Homo sapiens: one gene and its partner. The protein of the gene in region 1 purifies or fractionates together with the protein of each later gene. This does not show direct contact. Each region holds a gene or a part of one and is shown on either strand. Other genes may lie near its edges. The genes, in order: ZBTB17 and ZBTB4.

What was found.
Region 2: the proteins of ZBTB17 (region 1) and ZBTB4 purify together in Homo sapiens (affinity purification with western blotting; one study listed by BioGRID). This does not show direct contact.

What each region holds. Positions count from the first base shown.
Region 1 is NC_000001.11:15,941,233-15,945,271, forward strand, and holds the end of ZBTB17 (zinc finger and BTB domain-containing protein 17), read right to left. Parts: intron 3,971-4,039; coding exon 3,705-3,970; intron 3,608-3,704; coding exon 3,465-3,607; intron 3,369-3,464; coding exon 3,068-3,368; intron 2,664-3,067; coding exon 2,576-2,663; intron 2,484-2,575; coding exon 2,367-2,483; intron 2,288-2,366; coding exon 2,167-2,287; intron 1,963-2,166; coding exon 1,832-1,962; intron 1,507-1,831; coding exon 1,297-1,506; intron 1,210-1,296; coding exon of another isoform or gene 1,189-1,209; coding exon 1,099-1,188; intron 1,021-1,098; coding exon 737-1,020; 3' UTR 637-736; downstream 1-636. UniProt on the Homo sapiens protein: Transcription factor that can function as an activator or repressor depending on its binding partners, and by targeting negative regulators of cell cycle progression.
Region 2 is NC_000017.11:7,472,874-7,476,679, forward strand, and holds part of ZBTB4 (zinc finger and BTB domain-containing protein 4), read right to left. Parts: intron 1-3,806. UniProt on the Homo sapiens protein: Transcriptional repressor with bimodal DNA-binding specificity. Represses transcription in a methyl-CpG-dependent manner.

The DNA of each region.
Region 1 (4,039 bases):
CCCCAGCCTGGTGGCAGAGATGCCATCTTTTGAACCTTCCCAAAAGATGATGGCACCGGCTTGGCCTTAGTCCTCGGGCCAGGTAACCCTGAAGCAAGTGTGGCTTCCATCTGCTCCCTTAGGCCCATCAGAGCCAGGGCAGTGGCCTGGGCCTGGCACTCTCCTTGGCCTACCTTGCCACTCTGGCTGGAAGGACCCCTGAGCCAGGCCTGGCAGCAGTGGCCTGTGAGCCAGGCTCGCTCTGGGTTGCCTGTACCCTGGTAAGCAGTTGGTGGCCGCCCCTGCTGGTCCCTTCCCCAACTTCCCAACCTCTCCCCAACCTGGGCCGAGGGGGAGCAGGGTCATAGCTGTGGGGCGAGGGGAGGCCAGGCCCTAAAGATGAACAGGTGAGAAGCCTCCAAACAAGATGGGATGAGGGCATGGGGCACGTGGTGCCGAGGTCTCTCCAGCCTGAGTGTACTGCCCACTCCTCAACTTGGGGCAAAGCAGCCAGCCTGGCTCTGATTCTAGTCGCATTCAGCAAGAGGGACGGGCTGACCTTCCCAGGAAGGCTGGTTCCTGGGTGGTACAGCCTTTCTGTGGCATCAGTTGTAGCTGCCAGCTCCCCACCCACCCCACAGGGACCTATAGGCAGCATTAGAAAATAATCCAATTTATTCTCTCTAGGGAACAGGCCACCCTTCCCGGTTCCAGGGTGCCATCCATCCTTAAATAAACAGTCAGAAGGGCCGCCAGCTCACTCGGCAGGCGGGGGACATTCAGGAGCTGTAGGGGAGGTCTCTGCCAGTGCGGGCTGGCCCTCAGCCCCGTCGCGAGGGCGGAAGACCAGCTCCCCAGCCTGCAGCACCTGCCCGGCAGGCCACGTGCCACCTGGCCCATACTGCTGATAGAAGTCCGCGTCTGTCTGGAACATGACCAGTGCCTGGGCTGTGTGGATTCGCACATGCTGAGCCAGGCTGTTGGCATCCAGAAACTTGTCCCCACAGGAGTCACAGGCGTAGAGGATGTGAGTGTTGGGGTCTGTGGAGGTGGGGCAGCAGTCAGAGTGGGAAGGACCCCGGGCTCTGCCCACATTCACACCCGGGTGGCCCCCCTCACCTTCTTCCTGCACTTGCTTCACAGCTTTGCTGATCTCGGCCTTCAGGACTTCCGTCTCATCGGCTGTCACTGCAGCTCCCACCGGCACCACTGCGGGCAGAGTCGCAGGGCCTAAGGTGAAGGCACGGGCACTGCCCCATCATCGCCACCCTGGCAGCAAGCTGCCTGTGACTTCCCTCTGCTGCCCACAGCCCGCACCTGTGAGCTGAGTGACGGCTGTCGCTGCCAGTGCCTCGGTAGCCAGCGTGACCATGTCATCCACAGTGACCACGCTGACCTCACTGCCCTCCTCGGGCTCCAGGATCTTGATGCCTGCCTTGCCCTGGTGCACGGTCTTCACGTGGGAGCGCAGGTTGTCTACCCGGTTGAAGCCACGCCCACACTTATCACACAGGTAAGGCTTCTCTCCTGGGGGAGCAAGGTTCTCTCTTGCCTTTGTGGGAAGGGGCCGCAGGGATGGGGTGGGAGGCCCTCAATGACTCGTTTGCCCAGCAACCCTGTCTTTTACAGCAGGAGGTGCTCTGGGGTGGCTGCACGGGTGCCTCTGGTGACACTGGCACCTCTGGAAGCTCTAGGAAAATGGGGTCCTCATTTGAACAGAACTGCCTTCAAGGCCACCTGCAGCAAGAGCTAGCACCCGAGGCTGGGGTCTGGGGGGTCCCTTCCTTCCCCCTGCTCCCCACCTGGCAGCAGGGCCTGGGAAGGAACAGGCATGGTAGGGGCCACAGCTCACCAGTGTGAATGATGATGTGCTTGGACAGGTCCCCCACGTTCACGAAGGCCTTGCTGCACACGCTGCACTTGTGTGGGCGGATGTTGTCGTGGTGGCGAATATGATTGGCCAACTGGCTGGACTGGACGAATCTGTGGGGCCACAGGAAGGGACTCGCATGGAACTGCCCCAACCTGGGCCTCCTGCCTCACCCTCTAGACTGAAAAGGACCCCTAGGACCAGAGCCTGGGGCGTGGGCAGCAGTCAGCTCAGTCCCCAGCCAAGCCCCCAGTTTGTCTTCTGAGCCCCCTCACTGTGGGGTGTCTGGCCAGTGGGTGTGGGGGAGGGGGCAGGACCTCTTGCCGCAGCGCTCGCAGACGTAGGGCTTCTCCCCGGTGTGCTGGCGCACGTGGGCGATGAGGGAGCTGGCCTGGGTGAAGGCCTTACCGCACATCACACACTGGCATGGCTTCTCACCTGGGGACCGGGCAGAAGGTGTTGGTGCCTGCTCCTCTCCGTGCCCTCCCAGTCCTGGGCATGGCCGCTCACCACCCACCTGTGTGAATGCGGACGTGCCGCTGCAGAGCGCCGGGGTCTGCAAACTGTCGCTGGCAGTGGATGCACACGTAGGGCTTCTCCCCGCTGTGGATCCGAAGGTGCCGCTTCAGGTTCCCTGTGGCGAGACCGAGGGCGAACCTGGCGTGGGGCACCACCGGTGGCCGAGGAGCAGGGGTGTGAGGGCAGCCAGGGCAGCCCTGGCCCTACCTGAGGTGGTGAACTGCTTCCCACACTCTCGGCACTTGAGGGGCCCGTCAGCGATGTGGATCTTCAGGTGGGCCTTCAGGTTCCCTACCTGTGCCCAGGGAGGGGTCAGGGGGGCCACCCCACAGAGCTCGGCCCCGGGCCCCCTCACCTGCCCCTCCCACAAAGGAACAATTGACTCTCAGGCTTGCCAGGGTCCGTGAAGGGCTCTATCTCTCCTGGGTCAGGAGAGGTCCCAGGTCCCAGCGGTGAGAGGTAAGCCGCCCCACCCCATTTTTTCAGGACCAAACCCCGCCCTGAGTCGGCCTGCCCTCCGCAGAGCAACCGGGAGCTCCCCCGCGGAAGTGGCTCTCGCTGCGCCTGTTTCCTGGGTGAACAAGCTGATGAGCTCCTGGAGGCCGGGGCTGTGCTCCCCGCCCGCCCCACCACGTGGCATGCATGCGGCTGCGGCCACCGGCGGCTGCCAGGCGCTGGTTCCGGGAGGGGTCCGCACACCTGGTTGAACTTCTTGTCGCAGTGTGGGCACTTGTGCTCCTTGTCCGTGTCGTGGGTCTCCAGGTGGCGCATCTTGGAAGTGGGGTCGGAGAAGGAGCGGCCGCAGTAGTCGCACTGGTAGGGCTTCTCGCCGCTGTGCACCAGCTGGTGGCGCTTGAGGTTGCCCGAGGTGGTGAAGAGCTTGCCGCAGTCCTCGCAGCGGTAGCGCGCCTCGCCCGAGTGCCGCTTCTTGTGCAGGTTCAGCAGGCTGATGAGGCGGTAGCTCTTCCCGCACTCCTCGCAGCCGTAGGGCTTCAGAGGGCTGCAGGGCCAGAAGGCGACAGGAGGCAGGGCTCGCTGGGGCGTGAAAGGCCGGGCCTGGCAGGGGCCGGGGTAGGAGGCCGGCTTGGGGCAGTACCTGTGCGTCTTCTCATGGGCCTTGCACGCGGCCGGGTCGGAAAAGGCCTTGCTGCACTCCCGGCACGAGAAGGGCTTCTCCCCCGTGTGGATGCGGATGTGCCGCTTGAAGTTCCCCGTGTGCGTGAACTCCTTCCCACAGTCCTGTGGGTGCAGCGGGGAAGCGGGGTGTGAGGAGCAGCCGGTGGGAGGCCGGAGGGGAGGGACGCTGGCTGGGAGGGCTGGCCATAGTCTCCCTCACCTCGCACTTGTGGATGACGGAGCCGTAGGCCTTGGACTCCGTGCGGTCGCCGTAGGTGCCTGAGCGCAGGCCCCGGGCCTCGGAGCCGAGCTCCTGCCCCGAGTCTGTGCCCGCTGACTCCTCATTCTCGTTCTCCTCGGGGGCCTCTCCGTTCTCCAGCTGGGAACCCTCCTCCTTGACCTCAGCTGGCCCTGCGCCCTCCTCCTCTTGCTCCTCTTGCTCCTTTTGCTCCTCTTCCCCTTTCCGGGCGGGCTCCACCTCCATTTCTGCGGAGAAAAGGGCAAGCATGGAGGCGGCAGCCCTCTCTGCCTGAGCGCACGTGAGGGGCGCCGGCA
Region 2 (3,806 bases), on another chromosome or scaffold:
GCTCAAGTGATCCTTCTGCCTCGGCCTCCCAAAGTGCTGGGATGACATGCATGAGCCACTGAAACTGGCCCAACTGCTTCTCTTTTTTTTTTGCGGCGGGGGACAGAGTCTAGCTCTGTCGCCCAGGCTGGAGTGCAGTGGCACAATCTTGGCTCACTGCAACCTCCGCCTCCCGGGTTCAAGAGATTCTCCTGCCTCAACCTCACGAGTCACTGGGACTATAGGCGCGCGCCACCATTTTTTTTTTTTTTTTTTTTGAGACTGAGTCTCGCTCTGTCGCCCAGGCTGGAGTGCAGTGGTGCGATCTTGGCTCACTGCAAGCTCCGCCTCCCGGGTTCACGCCATTCTCCTGCCTCAGCCTCCGGAGTAGCTGGGACTACAGGCACCCACCACCACTCCCGGCTAATTTTTTTTTGTATTTTTAGTAGAGACGGGGTTTCACCATGTTAGCCAGGATGGTCTCCATCTCCTGACCTTGTGATCTGCCCACTTCGGCATCCCAAAGTGCAGGGATTACAGGCATGAGCCACCGCGCCTGGCCAGGCCCGGATAATTTTTGTATTTTTAGTAGAGATGGGGTTTCACCATGTCGGCCTGGCTGGTCTTAAACTCCTGACCTCAGGTGATCTGCCCGCCTCAGCCTCCCAAAGTGCTGGGATTACAGAGCCTGGTCAATTATTTATCTTTTTTTGAGACAGGATCTTGCTCTGTTGCCCAGGCTGCAGTACAATGGTGAGATTGAGGCTCACTGCAGCCTTAACCTCCTGGGCTCAAATGATCCTCTCACCTGTCAGCCTTCTGAGTAGCTGGGACTACAGGTACCTGCCACCATGCCCAGATAATTTTTGTATTTTTTGTAGAGATGAGGTTTCACCATGTTCCCCAGGGCTGGTATTGAAATCCTGGTCTCAAGCAATCCGCCCAGCTCAGCATCCCAAAGTGCTGGGATCATAGTGGAAAGCCACTGCGCCCAGCTCCTATTTCTTATTTATCTCTGGAATGTAAGCTCCAAGGGGTAAAAGGTAGGAATGTTTTTGGTTTTGTTTTGTTTTTGAGATGGATGGCATCTTGCTCTGTTGCCCAGGCTGGAGTGCAGTGGCATGATCTCTCTCGGCTCACTGCAACCTCTGCCTCCTGGGTTCAAGCAATTTTCCTGCCTCAGCCTCCCAAAAACCTGGAACTACAGGCATATGCCACCACACCCGGCTAATTTTTATATTTTTAGTAGAGACAGGGTTTCACCATGTTGACCAGGCTGGTCTCGAACTCCTGACCTCAGGTGATCCACCCGCCTTGGCCTCCCTCCCAAAGCGCTGGAATTACAGGCATGAGCCACCATGGCCAGACTTTTTTTTTTTTTGACATGAGGTCTTGCTTTGTCACCCAGGCTGTAGTGCAGTGGTGTTACCACAGCTCCCTGCAGCCTTGACCTCCCCTAGGCTCAGGTGATTCTCTCATTACAGCCTCCCAAGTAGCTGGGACTACGGGCATATGCCACCACGCCCAGCGAATTTTTTGTATTTTTAGTAGAGATAGGGCTTCACCATGTTGCCCAGGTTGGTCTCGAACTCCTGGGATCAAGCAATTCACCGCCTTGGACACCCAAAGTGTTGGAATTACAGGTGTGAGCCACAGCGCCCGGCCAAGGGTAGGGAATTTTGTCTGCTTTGTTCATTGCCGTATCTGAAGTCGTTAGAATAGGGCCTAGCACGTAATAGGTGGTAAAAACAAAACAAAAAAACTGGTAAATGAATGAACCTGTCCTCAAAGTCCATCCTCCAGGATGGAAGCCATCGTCCACGCTGGACTGAGTTGGCCTGGAGATAGGGATGACAATTATAACTTGACCACTTCTGGGCCAGGCACAGTGGCGCACACCTGTAATCCCAGCACTTTGGGAGGCTGAGGCGGGCAGATCACTTGAGGTCAGGAGTTCCAGACCAGCCTGGCCAACATGATGAAACCCCATCTGTACTAAAAATACAAAAATTAGCTGGGTGTGGTGGTGCACGCTTGTAACCCCAGCTACTCAGGTGGCTGAGGCAGGAGAATTGCTTGAACCGGGGAGGTGGCGGTTGCAGCGAGCAGAGATTGCGCCACTGCATTCCAGCCTGGGCGACAGAGTGAGACTCTGCCTCAAAAAAAAAAAAAAAAAAAAAAAAGGCCAGGTATGGCCAACTCACGCCTGTAATCCCAGCACTTTGGGAGGCCAAGGCAGGTGGATCACCTGAGGTCAGGGATTGACCACCTGCCTAGCCAACATGGTGAGACCAGCCTGGCCAACATGGTGAAACTTGGTCTCTACTGAAAATAAAAAATTAGCTGGGCGTAGTGGCGGGCGCCTGTAACCCCAGCTACCCGGGAGGCTGAGGCAGGAGAATCACCTGAACCCGGAAGGCGGAGGTTGCAGTGAGCCAAGATCATGCCATTGCATTCCAGCCTGGGTAACAAGAGAGAAATTCCGTCTCAAAAAAAAATTAAAAGAAACCATAAATAAGTTGACCACTCTGGAGTCCTCACAATTTGCCTCATACTCTTCTTGGGGCCTCACACACATTACCTCATTTAATGATATTCTCAGTACAGCCACCCACAATAGGTTTTATATTATCCTGTTGCCCAGGCTGGAGCGCAGTGGCGTGATCTCGGCTCACTGCAACCTCCGTCTCCTGGGTTCAAGCAATTCTCCTGCCTCAGCCTCCAGAGTAGCTGGGATTCCACGCCCAGCTAGTTTTTTTATTTTTAGTAGAGACAGGGTTTCTCCATGTTGGCCAGGCTGGTCTTGAACTCCTGACCTCAGGTGATCCACCTGCCTTGGCTTCCCAAAGTTCTGGGATTACAGGCATGGGCCACTGCGCCCGGCCATATTATTCTAATTTTACAGAAGAGGAAACCGAGGCTCAGAGAGGGATATACCTTACTCGAGGTCGCACAGCTTGTAAGCAGCAGTCAAGATTCGAATCCAGGCCCAGCTGACCCCAGATGCTCAATCTTTCCCTCTGCCATACTGCTAGACCTGGCCCTGAAGAGGCCTATGGCCCGCCAGCTGGTTACATAAACCACCGCACAAGGTCTCACGTGCTAAGTGCTAAATGTGTCATGTCTGACTCCACCCTTTCCCTCACTTCCACATCCAGCAGTCATCAAGTGTGGCTGAAATCGCCGCCGAGCTTGGGAATGGCTCTGGAAATCTTCCCTTCGATAGCTCAGGTCCTTGTTAACACTCACGTGGTCCAAGGTTATGGCCTCCCAGCTATCCCCTGGCCTCCAGGCTTACCTTCCTCCATCCAGCCCTCCTCCCCCTGAGGGTCAACGTCCCTAACCACAGTTCAGGACTATCACTCCTGGGCTCAAAACCTCCACTGGTCCCCACTGACTCTAGAAGAAAGTTCAAATTCTTCTACCAGGCAGTCAAGGGCTCTGGTCTAGCTCCAATCTTCCTTTTTAATCTTGCCTTGTGTTATCCTCTTCAAACACACAGTACTCAGCGTGAGCCAGGCGTGATGGCAGATACCCATAGTCCCAGCTACTCAGGAGGCTGCAGCTAGAGGATTGCTTGAGCCCAGGAGTTTGAGTCCAGCCTGGGCAATATATTGAGACCCAGTTTCTAAACAAATGAACAAAACCCCAGACACCCAGTGTGCTCTCCAGCTTCTACATGACCCACACCTTCATGCCTTTGCCTGTGCTGGCTTGTTCTGCCAGAAATGCTCTTTCCCCAAGCTTGTCAAAATCCCTCCAAAACGTTAAGATCTGACTCCAAGGCCACCTCCTTCTTGGCCCTCCCTGATCCACAGGATGAGAAC